2 separate regions of the Homo sapiens genome follow, and region 1 is linked to region 2. The links come from fine-mapping of genetic effects on gene expression. A gene starts in region 2. The other region holds a variant in brackets. All regions are shown on one strand. Distances are between the middles of the regions. Region 1 overlaps DPYSL3 (dihydropyrimidinase like 3). Region 2 holds the start of DPYSL3 (dihydropyrimidinase like 3).

Region 1 (8,347 bases), 33 kb before region 2:
AGAGAGCAATTCTGTGAGACCATAGCAATCAACCTCCTCCATCTTACAGCTGAAGCACATGAGACTAGCGATGGCTTGCCCATGGCCAACACTGTAGTTAGTGATACTACTAGTATAGAGCTCCGACTTCTAATCCAGAGATCCACCATCCATTACACACTGCCTCACTTCATCCTAGAAAATAGGTTTGGGGCATAGGTTATGCCCTGTTCAAATGTTCAGTAATGCTATGCTCAGTCTCAAATGAAATAAAGTTGTTCATAACATCAGAAAGAGATGGCTAAGTGCTGAACCAGAAATAATTACTATTCTGAGATGCAAGACATAATGATGAGGTGTTATAGTGAAAGAAGAAAAAGAAAAGTCAAGGCACCCAAGTTTTAGCCATGTCTATTTTATTAACAAATTGACCCTAAGCAATTCACTTAACCTCTTTTCATTTCTTCAGTGGAGAATTCTTTGCTTCCAACCTCTTTGGGTTGATGATCAAATGAGATAATGGAAATGCCTCTGTTTGGGAAAAAATGCATTTTGAAAGGCTATATGAACACCAGGTCTGAGTATTATTTTTCCATCATGTTACAAATTTATCCAGGGCTGATATCTGCTCAAAGGCCTATTTACCATTACTGCTTTCCAAGTATGACCCTGCCTTTAAGTATCTCTCTGTTTTTCAAATTATGTATTTCTCCAGATGCATGTTTTCACTTTTCCAGGCTGATCTCGTTTGTTCATTTCCTGTCCATATTTCTAATCTCCCTAGGTTGCTCTGTACTACGTCTCTTGCTTACTGGTGTTTATAACACCATCCTATTTACCCTCATCTGCAGACATAATTACCATAATAGGTTTATGGCCTCTTTCCAAGCCATTAATAACAACGCAAAATGAAATGCATCTGAAGCTCATCTCTGCAACATCTTCCTGGAGCTTGTACCATGCCATTTTTCATTCTTGTCAAATTTTTCAGCCAATATTGAGGTCATTTTCATGGTTCAGAGAAACTCCTAACCCAACCCAAGTCTTTTTCTTTTGTTTTCTTTTTTAAATCATACGGGAACCAGACTTTGTTTCTCTTGCTTGTAATAAAATAAATAAAATAAAGTCAGTTGCAACATGCCAAAACATGAAGCAGGGCACTTAAAGTCCTGAGAATAAATGAGTAGGTTTCTATCCAAAGATCTTTTTTCACATCAATGTGAGAGGGCTCATTGTGATTTTGTCTCTGTATTTATCCAGCAAACAGGAAGACCTGAGTTTTCCAAGTAGAATTCCATATCCTTGTGTTTCTTTCCCAGTGGAGACCAACAGCCAAGTTCCTCAGTAATAAACCTGAAGAATGAGATACATAATCTTTGAGACTCACTACAAAAGAAAAAACTTTGTTGGTTTTCTCAATAAGCTGACATTAAAGTCCCATCTTTGCTTCCATTACAACACTTAGCAGCTTCTAAAGAGAAGGGAGTTTGAAGAAGAAAGAGAAAGAATATAAAGATTAATCCACAGGTGAATAAACTTGAGAAATGGTGAATGAAATGTTATCACAAACAATTTTCTTTTCTTCTTCTTAGTTTGGAATTCATTTGGGGGTTCTGTTTTGTTTTGTTTTGTTTCTGATTGAGCTCAGCACAGGATGCCTCATCTTGTTCTAAATTCTAGAATGTATTTCTTCACTTCTTGCTGAGCTCTTCTGGCAATGGACTTTTCCACCAATGGGTTTGCCCTTTGCAGTTAAATGGTGATTCAACTTCTAAGCAGTTGGAAATTCAGGTGGAATTAAACCTTGGGGACCTTTCTGAATTACTACATGGACTTCCAATTTTCTTTTTTAAATATATTTTAAATGTGACACCCTTAGAAATGCTAAATTTTTGTTCCTGAATAAAGAGGAAAGAAAAGCTGCAAGTATCTTAATACTGTAACTTAAATGCAGTGTTTGAGGCAAAGTCTCATTTTTATCAATTATTTTCATAGGTGAAAAGGCAAATTATGAATTCTGGACACAGAAACACCTGGTTTTCTATCCTGGCTACATAAAATACTTGCTTTATGAAATGGAAATACTGTCTTAATCTTTTTGAGTTTGTTTCCTTTTCTATAAAATGGGGATGAATAATACTTTCATCACACAATGTTGTTCAGATATCATGTACACAATGGTGGCTAGTAAGTACAGTGTCTGGTGCATCATAGGGGAACAGTAAATGTCATCTGCTTCCTTTGTCCTCCCATACACATAATGACAAAATCTGTCATCTTTTATTAATACACATAGTTCACTTTCTCATAACACTGTTATCAAGCAATTATGAACTGCTAAGAGGAAAATGTCTTTTCATGAATTTAATAATAATGATAATGATACTACGCAGGCAGAATCCTAAGTGCTTTTATCTGCATTTTTTTCATTTATTCCTCACAAAGGGAAGTACTTTTACCATTCCCATTTACAGAAAAGGATTTGGAAGCTGACAATGGTTAAATGACAAGCTAATTAGTGAATGGGTCAGGATTTGAGCTCAAGCAGTCTTGTGCCAGAACTTCACCCTTGTTAGCCACTCTATACTATCTTCTTTTACAACAGTGTTTATTATGAATTGGAGGTAATGATTGTATGGAGATTACATAGGGTAATGCATAGAAAGCACTGTACATAATGCCTGCCACATGGTAAATGCTTAATAAATTAGAAATTTGGTGAATAAATAAGATTTTTTGTAATATAATTAGATCATCTCATGTAATAGCCTTTTTTAAAACACTTTGTTGAGATATAACAATACCATACAATTCACCAATTTAAAGTATACAATTCCGTGGTTTTTAAGGTATATTTAGAGCTGTGTAACTATCATCACAATCTAAGTGTAGAACATTTTCATCACTCAAAAAATCCTTTATTTTTTGGAATCTGGATTTTCATAGATTAGGTTTTCTTAAAGGAGAGTATGTATGAAAAATGGCACTTTTCTCACATATTACTGGTTGGAATGAAACATGGTACAACCACTCAAGAAAATAACTTGGCAGTTTCCCAAAAGACTAAACATGCAGTAACCATACAACCTACCAGTTGCACTCCTGGGCATTTATTCCAGAGAAATGAAAACTTACATCCCCGCAAAAACCTGTAGGGGAATGTTCATAGCAGGTCTATTCATAATAGCTAAAACCTGGAAACACCCCAAATATCCTTCAAAAATTGGTGATATCTGAATAAGGCCCTGCCACCTACCTAACAGTATTGTACAGATGTTAGTTTCTTGGTTTTAATATCATATTGCTGTTATGTGAGATGTGACCATTGGCAAAAGATGAGTGAAGTGTTCAAGGGATCTCTGAACTATTTTTGTTATTTCTTGTGAGTCTGTAATCATTTCAAAATAAAACGTTAAAATAATAGCACTTCAAAAGCAAAGCTAAGTCAAGTGTTGAAGAATATACCCAGAACCGAATGCTGGCATCTATATGGTTTTTGAGATGGTTCTTAGAATTGAAACAACTTCATCACAGCAAAAGATTTGAAACAAAGATTAAAATCCTAAAACAAATTGCTCAAAATGGAAAATTATTCAAAGGAATAGAAAGAATACCTTGAAAGAACAGATGAAAGCAGAGCCTCAAAGTTAACGTATAAATAGAAACTAAATTACAGAATAAATAAAAGATGCCCTAGGAAGGTGCAAAGATCAAAGTAATTACAAACTATAGAAGTAATCTCATTTAAAGGGTTGTCTTAACATGCTATAATGAAGAAGATGACTCAAACTCTTGAAAATATTTGTAAAGGTTTTTGAGCAGACAGTTATCCTGAAAAACACCCGAAGTTAATTTATTTGGATTAAGATCATGATCACAAAGTAGCATCAATTAACATATCCTCAAAAATGAATGTATTATTATGATTCTGTTTCTGCAGATAACAATAGTAATAATGATGGGAAGTAAAATTATTAAATATCTTACTTGTACAAACTTATTTAATTCTCATAACAACCTGCTGAGGTTGATACTATTATTATGGCCATTTTCACAAATGAGAAAACTGAGGCATAATGATTATGTAACTTGATCAAACTCATATAGCAAGTAAGTGGTAGAGCTAGAGCTGGACTTGATACAGATACAAATGGTCACAAACTCGATTATGAAATTCAAAATTAAATTTAAAAAGTGAATTAACTTATAATTTTAAAATGAAAAATTAAGTCCCAATACTAATTAGTTCCATGATCATCTAGTTAAAAGAAGAAATAAACTAATTTTGTTTGAATTAACATAAAATTTCAGTTATCCAGGGTCCAATCAGAGGATAATTTTTATGACTGTAAAATAATTGATATTCGTAATGATGAGTAGAGAAATATGGTAGATTAGATCATTTAGT[T/C]CTTCCAATGCAAAATATGTTAATGCATATTTAGGAGTAAAAACAAGGGAAATGAAGACAAAAATAAGCAGGAGAGCTGACACTTTGGCTGCCTTATGGGGATTTACCCATCTTGGTAACCAAGAGTTGGAGTTTTAACGCTTCAAAGAGGAAAAGAGATGAACCCCTTTGGTCCATATCAAAGGGGGAGGAATTTGGACAGAGACTTCCATGTAAATTTTGGTCTCTCAGTGAAAAATGCAAACTGGTGAAATCTTCTCATGTATATGGAGTGATGACATGGAGCTTATTTTTCTTGGCCAATGTTCTTGATGGAGTATTGTGGGAGGAGTCTCCTCAGAATTTGTAACAATAGAAGACCCTCAGGTAAGTTTGAATTTTATTTTAGGCATTTATTTTATTTTATTTTAGGAATTCCTAAAGTGAAATATTAACATGAACAATGTTCATTGCAAAGATACCACTGGGGTATCTGGCAAAAAACAAAAGCATTAGAAAGAGACACCCTTTAGATGCTTTAGAATCAGGTTCATCAGATTCTTTCAGAAAAAGCACCAACTCACATGAGTTCACAATTAAAAATTACCAGACACATTTAAAAAATCTACTCTGAGCAAGATTTAAGACACAATAAGTACCCCCCAGTTCCCTCAAAACTTCATGAAATAAAACAATTACATAGAAAAAATAAAATCAGTATGTTTAAACGGACAAAATTCCCAATTCAGATAATATTTAAGTACAGGAAAAGAACAAGACATGATCAAAACAGAAAATGCAGATTTAAAATAGGGCACGGAATACATTGTCTGGAAGTGGGAAAAAAATAGCCAATGAAATGAAACACTCAATGAGTGGTTTAACAGCAGATTATTTACATATGAAGAGAGAATTTGTGAGCCAGGATATAACTATGACCAGATAGCCCTGGCTGAATGAAAAGAAATGGAAAGCACAACAAAGAGATTAAGAGACCAGGACATTAGAAAGATGATCCACAATAAAGTTAAGAGGAGCTCCAGACAGGAAAGAAAATGAAGAGCGGCAATATTCACAGAGATAATTTATGGCTGTGATATTTCCAGAATTGTTGAAAGATGTGAATCCTCAGATTCAGAAAGTACATTGAGTGCAGAGAAGGAAAAATAAAAACACCTAAATCTTTTTTTTTTTTTTTTTTTTTTTTTTTTTTTTGAGACGGAGTCTCGCTCTGTCGCCCAGGCCGGACTGCGGACTGCAGTGGCGCAATCTCGGCTCACTGCAAGCTCCGCTTCCCGGGTTCACGCCATTCTCCTGCCTCAGCCTCCCGAGTAGCTGGGACTACAGGCGCCCGCCACCGCGCCCGGCTAATTTTTTGTATTTTTAGTAGAGACGGGGTTTCACCTTGTTAGCCAGGATGGTCTCGATCTCCTGACCTCATGATCCACCCGCCTCGGCCTCCCAAAGTGCTGGGATTACAGGCGTGAGCCACCGCGCCCGGCCCTAAATCTTTACTAAAATTGCAAAACTGCGAAGATAAAGAAAAGATGTTAAAGGCAAGCAGAGAGAAAAGGAAGACTGCCTTTCTTAGAGCTTGTCCAGAATCACAATTTTGCTTTTTACAGCCAGGACCAGAATTCATGTCTCTTGTATCTTACATTTTGAGCTCTCTTTTTCATTATTGCTCTCATAAAAATGTTTTTCAATTAATGATTTATCCTAAGTTATGCACTACATAAGATATCTCTCAGTCTCACAGAACTTCACACATTCCCTTTGTATTCATTGGTCTGTTAGAGGGAGTTCATAGGTCTTCTTAATACACACTCTGACATTTTAATTTTTACTCCGTCTCCAGCTTATACACATTAATATCAGCTAGAACTTGCATTCAGCTCTGCATAACTACATCTGTAAGGGAGGCTGGAACATGTAGTTTTTTAAGCTGGGCACATTGCCTCTGTCAACAAAAAAATCAGGGTTGCCTCAGTAAGAAAGAAGGAGACAACTGATTATTGGTTAGACACACATCATAACATCTAAGAAGTATGGTGTAAGAAGATGGTACCTTTGGAAAGAAGAAGGCAGCCAAGAGAGTCCAAGATGCCTGTTAAGTTTTGTGGCCTTACATGCACTCCGTATGACCCTGTGTAATTTGGCCTTGACTGTCCTCTCTGCCTTTGACTTTTGCTCAACTTATGCCACTGTCTACAGTGTTTCAGGTTCCTGAGCATGCCATGCTCTCTCCTTTATTGATCCTCTGTGTGGAAATCCTCTGCCCCCCACACACACCAGCATGCATTTCCACTACCATATCATACACATATATTTTGCCAGGCTATCTCAAATGTACATTGAGGCTGTGGGGAACCTTTCTTATCCCTCAAGGTTGGTTCTCTATCTGTCTGTGGGACCTTGGGGCCCTTTGTTTCTCTGAGACCCCTACTGTACTGCCTATCATACTGTACTGTAAGTGTGTCAGGGAAAGTGTCAGCCTCGGGACACTGTCTCCCCAAACTGTCAGCACCCTGAAGACAAAAACTTTATTCCATTTCCACCAGATCAGACTTGCCTTTTGCTCATTTTTCTTTATCAAGTATTTGCACAGTGTCTGGCATCTAATAGGTGAGCAATAAATTTTTGTGGAATGTATACATTAATAAATTCTACCTGAGTACATCATGAGTTAATTAAAGGAAAAAAAAAGTGTAGACAGGCAGTAATAGTAGCTACTACTTATTGAGGGTTTTCAAACTGTGAAGCATTCTGGATTTAGAGCACTACAGGGATTATCTTACTTTTCCAACAACATATGATACACATACAATTACTGAAATGAGGGAAGTGAGGCTCAGAGAGGTTATTTGCCCTAGGTCATAGAGCTAATAAAACACTGAGCAGGGATTTAAACCCTGGTTGTGTCTACTCCACAATCAAAATCCTTAATTGCCGGGCTATGCTGCTGAAATTCAGGTCTCAGCGCCTTTGGCTGTATATTCTAAGAGATGCTGCAACATAAATCCCTAGTGCACAGGACAACTGTTTAGGAGCGCAAGTCTTGTCAACTCAGTGAAGGACATTTTATCTTGTCTGAAGAGAGAATGAAAAAAGGAGGTGAAACACAATGGGGGTTTTATTTTGGGAAAAAGAGGAAGCAGGGTGACAAATGAAATAAACTGAGAATCCCACATCAGAGCAACCACAGAGCCAATCTAAGACAGGCATCTTATCTATCAACACCATTCTGACAACCAGCTAATTAAATATCTCTGGGGAGAAAGTTCCCATCTTGACTCACAAGGGCCAATGCTGAGTCTTGAAGCCTGTTCTCCACATGGAGCTTAGCAAGGCCAGCTTCCCAGATGGCCTGATAATCCCTGAAGCAAGCATAACACCCAAGTCCCACTGTAAAACAGGCACAGGCAGCAGACTACACAGAAATCAGGCTTAGCATAATAAGAATAATATAAAGGCTTGCATTTATTGGGCACTTGCAATCAGCAAGCAACTGAGTGGTGTTTCATTTAATCCTCCAAAAGAATCTAATGATATAGGTATTATCCCCATTGTACAGTGATGAGACCAAGGCACAGCAATTATTCCTGTTATTTCCTCCTGTTTGTCAGCTCTAAGCCCAGCCTTCACCACTTTATACTCTTTGATTTCTACTTGGCTACTACTCTGCAAACTACATGACTCAGAATTCTTAACCAGCTAGCTTCCTATTAAGTTCTGCAAACAGAAGGCAGCACGTAGAGAATAAAAGGCGAAAGAAAGGACAACAGAATCTCTTTCCCGTTTGCCTGTTCCTGCCAGCATCACTCCTGTAGCGGCAGTCATCTCCGGCCTCCAGCTTCTTTTTGCGCTGTCACTCCCAGTTTTGCCACACCCTCTTAGGAGCAGTCAGGTAGAGATCCCTCCTCCAAAATCTGGGCAATGAACCTGTAGGGCAGCACCCCTCCTTATTCATTCAGCCTTGGG
Region 2 (8,347 bases):
ACCATGTTGGCTAGGCTGTTCTCAAACTCCTGACCTCAAGTGATCTGCCCAGCTTGGCTTCTCAAAGTGCTGAGATTACAGGCGTGAGCCACCACTCCCAGCCTATTATTTTATATTTTTATTCTGTAAACACTTCTGTTATTTAACCTCATTACAATTTATTAAATAAACTCATTTTGTTAAGATAGAAGTTAATAATTAGGTATGCTAGATACAAAGCATATTTTGATTTTACCAAGACACTTAAAATATCTTTTGATAGCTCTGCAATCAACTTGAAAGAATAAGGATTTTGCAGCAACTGTTCTCCAAGGTTGAACAACTGGTCTCAAAGTTTCCTGTGTAATGGGCTGGTGGCACAATAGAAGAAGGGTTCTAGAGGTGTGGCAGGAAAATCTGTCCTTGCTCTGAATAATATTGACATGTCAGGAGCTGACACGACGGCCAGGCTGGTCATATTAAAATAAGGAAGCAGCCTCCCCACCTGGAAAGAACACAGACTCTGGAATCAGAAAAATCAGATTGTGAATTCTGGCTCCCCCCACTTATTATTTATGTGATTTGGGACTAAACAATTAGTCTCTGGGGTTCAATTTCCTTATCGGTTATAACCATTTTCTGTGAGGAAACGACCTTTTGAGCACTATTTAGTATAGGCACACAGAAAGTGTTCAAAAGGTGATACTATCAAATCAACAAATGGTACAAAGCTGGCAGTAGGAGTGCTGTATTATAGAATTAAGGTTTAAGATTATTATGATATAATAGAAAGATGAGCTAAGATAGTGATAAATATTATAGAAGGAAGAAAAAATAAAATCCTATAGTTAAGATTTTTTTGGGGGTGGTTTGTTTTAAATTAAATTGTACCAGCATAGAAGGGGAACATCCTGGCCTAACAGCAGCTTACGTGAAAAAAGTTTCTGAAAGCTTGAATGGCAGGGTGTTTGCCATGGAGACAATAGTAAGTCATAGATGCATATGTTCCGTAAAAGTCCAAAAAATTAAGTAACATAATGCACTTCGCCATGGTCATATCCCATCTGAAGCAACATATTCAGTTCTGGGCACTGTATTTTGAGAAAAATATTTACAAAATATGTAATATAATATAACCTGAAAAGGAAATCAGGATGGTAAAATGCTCATACAAGAGAAGACTGAAGAAGCTAGGAATAATAAGGGTAAGAAAGAAATTTAGGGAGAATGAGATAATTGCCCTCATACATGTAACGGGCATTAAAATTGAAGAGTAATAGTAATAACTAATATGTACTGAATACTACTGTGCAAAGTAGTCACCATTATCCTTATTTTGTACAGGAGAAAACTGAGGTACCCAGAGGCTAAGTTACATGCTTACAGTCATATAACTAGTAAAGGTTGGGACAGATTTCACTCCATTAATTCATCTCTAGATCTGGGAGAGATATTAGAGCTATTTGCCAAATATTTCTAGTCTTACAGGATCATGGCAAGATTGTATTCCACCAGTTGCTTTGAAGCTGAGTATAGACATGGTTTTCGGCCAATGAAATGTGAGCACACATCATGTTCATTACTTCAGCAAGGAATTAAGTGTGTATACAATTTGCCACATACTATACACAGATGTGTAGAGATGGAGCCTCCATCAAGTTAGGCACAATAATGAATAGAGCTTCCCTGTTGACTCACACTGGACAAATAGGAGCAAGAAATATGTTGTTATGTTTTTTATTAAGCTGCTGAGAGTTGGGGGTTGTTTGTTACTATGGCATCACCCAGCCTTTTCTGACAGATACAAGAGTGCACATACCTAAAAATCATTAAAATGTCTCATAATAAGGAAATATATTTACCCTTATATTTCCAAAGGTCAGAACTAAGAATAATTTGTAGAAACTACAGGTAGGTAGATTTGGGCTTAATTTTTTTTTTTTTTTAAGTAAAGTTGTCCAAAAAGTTGCTTCATGAGGTAGTGAGCTCCCTGACAATGGTTGTATTTAAGCAGAGGCCAGATGATCATTTTGCCAGCTATGTGGCAAAACAGATGGTTTAATTAAGGAGGTTTAGTGTATCAAACATTTATTGAGCACCTCCAATGTGCCAAGCATTCTAGCCACATAGATAAATCCAAATACACAATCTCTACCCTCAAGGAAATAAACAACAAGTTCAGAACTTGATAACCTCCGTGGTCTCTTCTAACAGTGTGATTCAACCAAATTAGAGATAATAACATGGCCTGGATGAAGCAGATGGCAAGCCCAAACTTACAAATGACTATGTAGCACTAGAAATCCTGCTGATGCCTAGGTTGTATTATTATTTCTCAATTAGTAGCCAAAAGTATAGGGTTTGCAAAAGGGAGGAAAACGGGAGAATTGCTAGGTTTAAAGGAGGAATATTTTCCCTTTCTCTAGTTACCATTCTTAAATCTTGCAAACCCAGCATATTATCTGGCTTACATCAGGGGTGTTTCAGCAAAGGGAATAGCACTGACTCACAGCAATTGTTACCGACCTTTTCCATCACTACTCCCGCCCGTTCCAGTCAGGAAGGGAACATTTCAATATGGACAAGTCAGACATGAAGAAAGGAATAACCTTTCTATAGGGTTCTTCTTCAGTTTAGATATCAACCAAAACATTTGCAAAATATCAGAAGTTTTCCCTAAAACGTTGGTAAGCAAGGGCTTAGGGGAATCACGCACTAAAAGGATGATGTGAAAATCACAAACTAAATGAATGATTTCAGAGGAAGCCGACATTGTTTTCCAAGTGGTACCCTTGAACAGCACTAACTTCAGCACTTATTTTCCCTGGTGGTCTTAGTAGTCAAAGGTTGGTTGGTTGGTTTGTCTAAACTTTCAAAAATCAAACAGTGAACAGAGATGCTGTTCTTTCACTAGCTCATTGCATTTTAATGGAAAAACAACTAAAACCTGAATAAGCATTAACTGTAATTGCTCTGAGGCAGACATTTCCATTTCAGGTTGTTATTCCTAACCATATTAGTGCAGAATAATACATGCGGATGGATTTTGCGGCCATTACCTAGACAAGGGTGAGGGCATCTGATTATTATTATTCCCCAACTGAAAGCTTCAGTTTGAACTCTGAAGTCTCCAGCCCTGCCAGGCCCTGCATTTTCTGAACTACATCTCTGAGTCTCTGTGAAATAGACACATAAATCAGGGCAAGCTAGATTTCAATGCCATCCCTTCAGTCAGTTCAGTGTGACATAAGTTTCTCAAAAATACACATACAGAAGAAATTGGCTTTGGCACATTTAAGAGCAGCAGGGAATTTGCATCTCATGCTAGTTTAATGTGCACTCTTAATACTCTCGTCTATTTTCTAAAATATAATGCTATTCTTGCAGAGGCAGCTGGACCCCTGTAATACCCAGTCTTGTGCCAAGCTATGTACACAAATACACTCTTTACAAACACAGATGTGAAATGCCGTGCTAAGACACAAGCGAGGCATAGAGAGAGATTCGCGTGTTTAGTCTAGAGGCTCCACACCCAAAAGTTTCAGGGACAGAGCTGATGTTTGAAGACTGAGAGGGGAGACCGCCCCTCCAGTACTTTCATCCGGGCACTATGGAGATGACCCCCATATTCCCAGCATCACTTTGCCCTCTGCCGTGGTGACCCGGGTTGAGATTTAATCTAGGGCCAGAGGGGGGCAAGACAATTGTGCTGTTGGCTACTAGAGAGAAGAGCTGGAAATCACTAAGCCTTCCCGGGCTGACACACCCACCCAGACCGGATGGCCCAGGAGTGCGGCGAGGAGGCAGGGGCAAAGGACGCGGCTCCAGGCAGGGGAACCCGGGCATCCCTTCCGCGCTTGCACGAAGATGCTGCAAGTGGCGACACGCGCGAATCCAGGGTCTGGGCTAGGAAGTCGCGCTACGCTCAGTGGAGGATGACCCTTTCCTCCTCCTTGTCCCCCAGCCCCGTGCAAAGTGAGCTGGAGAAAGTTGTGCCCGGGCCATGGCGGCCAGGGCTGGAGAAAGGAACGAAGGCAAGGAGGGAAGTGACCCGGGGCCCCCTTACCTTGTCCTTGGGGCCGAGGTTCTGCAACACCTCTTTGCCGGTGGCGCTCCGGATCTCTACCCCGGCGGGGGCGGGGGAGGCGGGCGCGGGCTCCCTGCTCTCTTCCCGGCCTTGGCCCCTGCGCGGGGTGTCCCCCTCGATCCCGGGCCGACTCCCCGATCCTCGGTCGCTGCCCTGGCCGCTCCGAGGAGTCTTCGCGCCCCGCTGCCCCACGCTGAGGGCATCGAAATCCAGCGTCTTGCTCTCGAAGGCGCCCTCCACGTTGCAGAACATGCCGCCGTATTTCTGCCGCGGGACCTGGTCCGTGGTGCCCGGCCTGGCCAGGTACACGGGCAGATCGTCTTCGTGGGAGCTGTCCCAGCCCCTCCGGCCCGAGGCCATGGTTCAAGCACGAAAGCGGCCCGCGGGTTTTTCTTCCCCAGAGGCGGAAAGGGCAGCCGCCGGCAGCGTGCGCCGAGCCACAGTGACTGTGGCGGGAGGAGGCGCCTGAGCCTTCGCGCCAGAGGCGGCAGTGCTGCTCCGATTCCTGCTTGTCCCTAGCGAGCCAGCGAGCCACACAGCCAGCTAGCGCGCGGAGCAGGGGCCCAGAGTAGCGCCGCGCTTGGCTCACTCGCTGGACCTCTCGCCCGGCCGCACCTCCTCACGCACCCCCAACCCTAACGTGGCCTCCCGGGCTGACGCAGCGTCGGTGCCCATCACAATCACAAACCAAACTTGGCGCGCGCGCACACGCACACACAGGCGCACACTGCCCGCTCGCGCAACAGCCTTGCCTCACACACTTTCGCGCAATTTAGACGTCTTAGAAATGTTCACACTCCAGCACTTGACTGCTTCACCCACACTAACTCCCTAGTTTGCCTCACAAACACAAAGCTTTCTGACGTCCCTCGTGCACAAAAACCCAGCTGACCCAGGTGGATTCATCTCAAAGCCAAGTCCTGATTTACAACTAACACATACAAACTCAAATTTACGACAGACTCACAATCCTACCCGGAACCCCGGACTTGCCTCATCCTGATCTTTAGGATGACACTCATAACTACACCCAGTTCTAGAATCTGCCTTGCAAACCCACACTCTCACATGAAGTCCTGAATTGGCTTACACACACAACACAAACACACACTGAGAGAGAAGCCCTCTTACTTCATTGAGAGTCACAAAAGCCCTTTGGCTCACATAAGCCCTTTCTTAGCTTCTATATAATATCCTAGTTTGCTTTTTACCACCCCTAATTTGCCTCATTTCAGATCACACACACACACACACACACACACACACATTCTTAGGTTTTGCCTTGCAAAGCACTCTTCATTGATGCTCTGTCCCTCATACAACAAACCCCAGATTTTAATCTCACACACTGACACAAGTCCAGGTTTACCTCAGTCGGAACCGACACTTAGATTCACACCTAAGCCCAGATTTACTTCAAAAATCACACAACCAAAGACTTTGCTTTTCATGTTACCTCAGATGTATGCAGACTTTACTTATGTACATCTGTGCTTTCATAACCTCATTCTCTTCCCCACGTCCACCCACGTATACTCTGACGCCGACTCTGCCACATAAACAGAACCTGCAAACTACATACCTTACATCATATCTGCACACACCACCTAAACCCAAAACCTGTTGTGCCGGATTTAACTGTGCTCCCTCTCAGAAAGTCACCCATTTATTTATTTAGTCAACCAACATAAATCAGGTACCCACTATGGCTTTCACAAGATGCTGGAGCAACAGTGTCGAACAAGAGAGATCGGCCTGTCCTCACCAAGAATGTAGTCTATTACCACCCATCTAGGTAGCACAGCCGTTCACTGTTCTGCTCAACTTACAGAACTTTGTTTATTTTGTGAACTAAACACTCCCCCTCCCAAGTATGGACACATACATGCTAAGCTCCATAAAGGCAGAGATCTGGTCTGTTCAGTTCACCTTTGTATATCTTGTGCCCAGAACATCTACAGGCACTTGATACATTCTTTTTGAACAAATGGAGGATAACAATAACAACGACAGCAGCACCAGAAAATGTTTATGGAGTTATTGCTATGTGCCAGTCATTATTATAATTGTTTCACATATATTAACTCATTTAATGCTCATAAGCATATGGCCGGCTTCTTTGTGCGCATAGACATACTCTTTGAAGGCATCCACATAGAATTTGATGAAATTAACCTTTGAACTCTGATTTTGGAGTGGAACAAAGGCTCCGGAAACTGGAATGTCAGTCTCAGGTCTGTGACAGCCACAAAATATTGAGGAATGGAAGTTGGCCTGAACTTAGATCAAAGACAGGTATGTTGACACAATTTAAACCTATCCCCTGGCCAGGCGCAGTGGCTCACACCTGTAATCCCAACACTTTGGGAGGCTGAAGCAGGTAGATCACCTCAGGTCAGGAGTTCAAGATCAGCCTGGCCAACATGGTGAAACCCAATCTCTACTAAAAATGTAAAAAATAGCCGGGCGTGGTGGCACCCGCCTGTAGTCCCACCTACTTGGGAGGAGGCTGAGGCAGGAGAATTGCTTGAACTCAGGAGGTGGAGGTTGCAGTGAGCAGAGATTGCGGCACTGGGCTCAAGCCTAGGCGACAGAGCAAAATTCCACACAAAACAACAACAACAACAACAACCCAATCCCCAGTGAAGAGAAAGCCACTTGCTAAACTGCCTGTGCTCTATCAGAATTATTTATGACTTCTTAAGCTGACTTCCTTTGGGCAGCTGCTCCTTCTTAACAAATGCTGGTTGGTGATGGACTCAGAATTTCCTGTGAGTGCTGCTTCAGAACAATTACAGTTAAGGGTTATCCAGGTTTTATTAGTTTCAGGCTCTGCGCTAAGGACATCCAGGCAGTATCTTAATTAATCTTAATAACCTTACCTGTCTGGTACTAGCATTTCTTTTTGTTTGAGACAGCATCTCCCATTTGAGACAGATGGGAAAGGCAGGAGTGCAGTGGCCCGATCACAGCCCATGGCAGCCTTGACCCCTGGGGCTCAAACAATCCTCCTACTTCAGCCTCCTGAGTAGCTGCGACCACAGGGGTGTGCCACCATGCCCAGCTAAACTTGTATTTTTTTCAGAAACAGAGTTTCACCATGTTGCCCAGGCTGGTCTTGAACTCCTGAGCCCAAGCCATCTGCCCACCTTGGCCCCCCAAAGTACTGGGATTACAGAAGTGAGCCACTGCACCTGGCCTATTATTTCTTTTCTACTAATGAGGAAGCAGAGGCTCTGAATGAATGTCCAAGTTACAAAAGAGTCATAACTTGAAGGAGGATACGTGCAGAGTCTGTTTACTTTGAGAGAGGGCACATTCTGAATGTAGACACACACTTTTATGTGCATATTTGCATGGGAACATGGGCATACAAACAGAACTTCGTAGTTGTACGTGAGCCCCATTGTTATAGCTGCATTGCCTCACCACTATGTCTGATGCAGTGTATAGGCACAATAATTACATTTGTTGACAAAGTATCACATTTAAAAGTAACAGTTACATGTACACATATGTGTTTAATTAAGAAAGTACAGCAGCCTATTAAAATTTTAGAAAGACTAAAATGGGAATGGCTGATCTGGCTCCAGTTCTGCAACTATGTGGCTTTAGGCAAATGTCTGGCTTAACCTATTTGTGTTTTTCTCCTTTATGTTTGCCTCCCACTGAATAGAATTATTATGGACTTCATTCCTGGAGCAAGCCATTGTGCTTAGAATTTCATAAACATTGCCTTAACCTTCATAAGAACCCCATAAATCTGAAGTGATGATTATTTCCATTTTATCCATGGAGAAAATGAGCCTTAGTGAAGTTGAGTTCTTTCCCTGAAGTATCAGTTAGTACTTCAAACTGGAATTCAAACTTCCCACTAGCTGATTCAGACAGAACTTGTGCTCTTAAAAAAACACCCATAATAGATCGCTGTCATGAGGATCCAGAGAAGTAATAAATGGGAAGCCCAAAGTTAAGGTGTTATGGAATGAAATATCCCTAAATGCCCCAGTTGTTCTTGGACAGAAGTTAACTTTGGTTAAGGCAAACACTCACATAAGGAAATATCAGACCACTCGACTCCAAGCAAAGGTATTAGCCCCATGAACACATGGCAATTTTGTCATGTCCCTTTCTAGTAAGACAGAGGATACATTACTTGTGACAATCACAAACACAAGAGCAACAGTATGTCTATAGATACTGTAAGTCAGACTACCCAGGGAAGGGGTTATCTAAAACAATATACAAACAGCAAACTATTTCTGTAATGTGGGCAAGAAA

Evidence for each region.
Region 1: its variant is fine-mapped to the expression of DPYSL3 in blood mononuclear cells (TOPMed, PIP 0.92).

The regions. Positions count from the first base shown.
Region 1 is chr5:147,472,013-147,480,359 of GRCh38, forward strand. The region is part of intron 1 of DPYSL3 (dihydropyrimidinase like 3); the gene reads right to left. Among named protein-coding and RNA genes, the nearest start is that of DPYSL3, 34 kb to the right of the region's middle. The variant T/C (reference allele first, on the strand shown) is at 4,388.
Region 2 is chr5:147,505,433-147,513,779 of GRCh38, forward strand. DPYSL3 (dihydropyrimidinase like 3) reads right to left here and starts at 4,636. Exons shown (of 14, transcript NM_001197294.2): 1 at 4,046-4,636. The coding sequence starts at 4,426.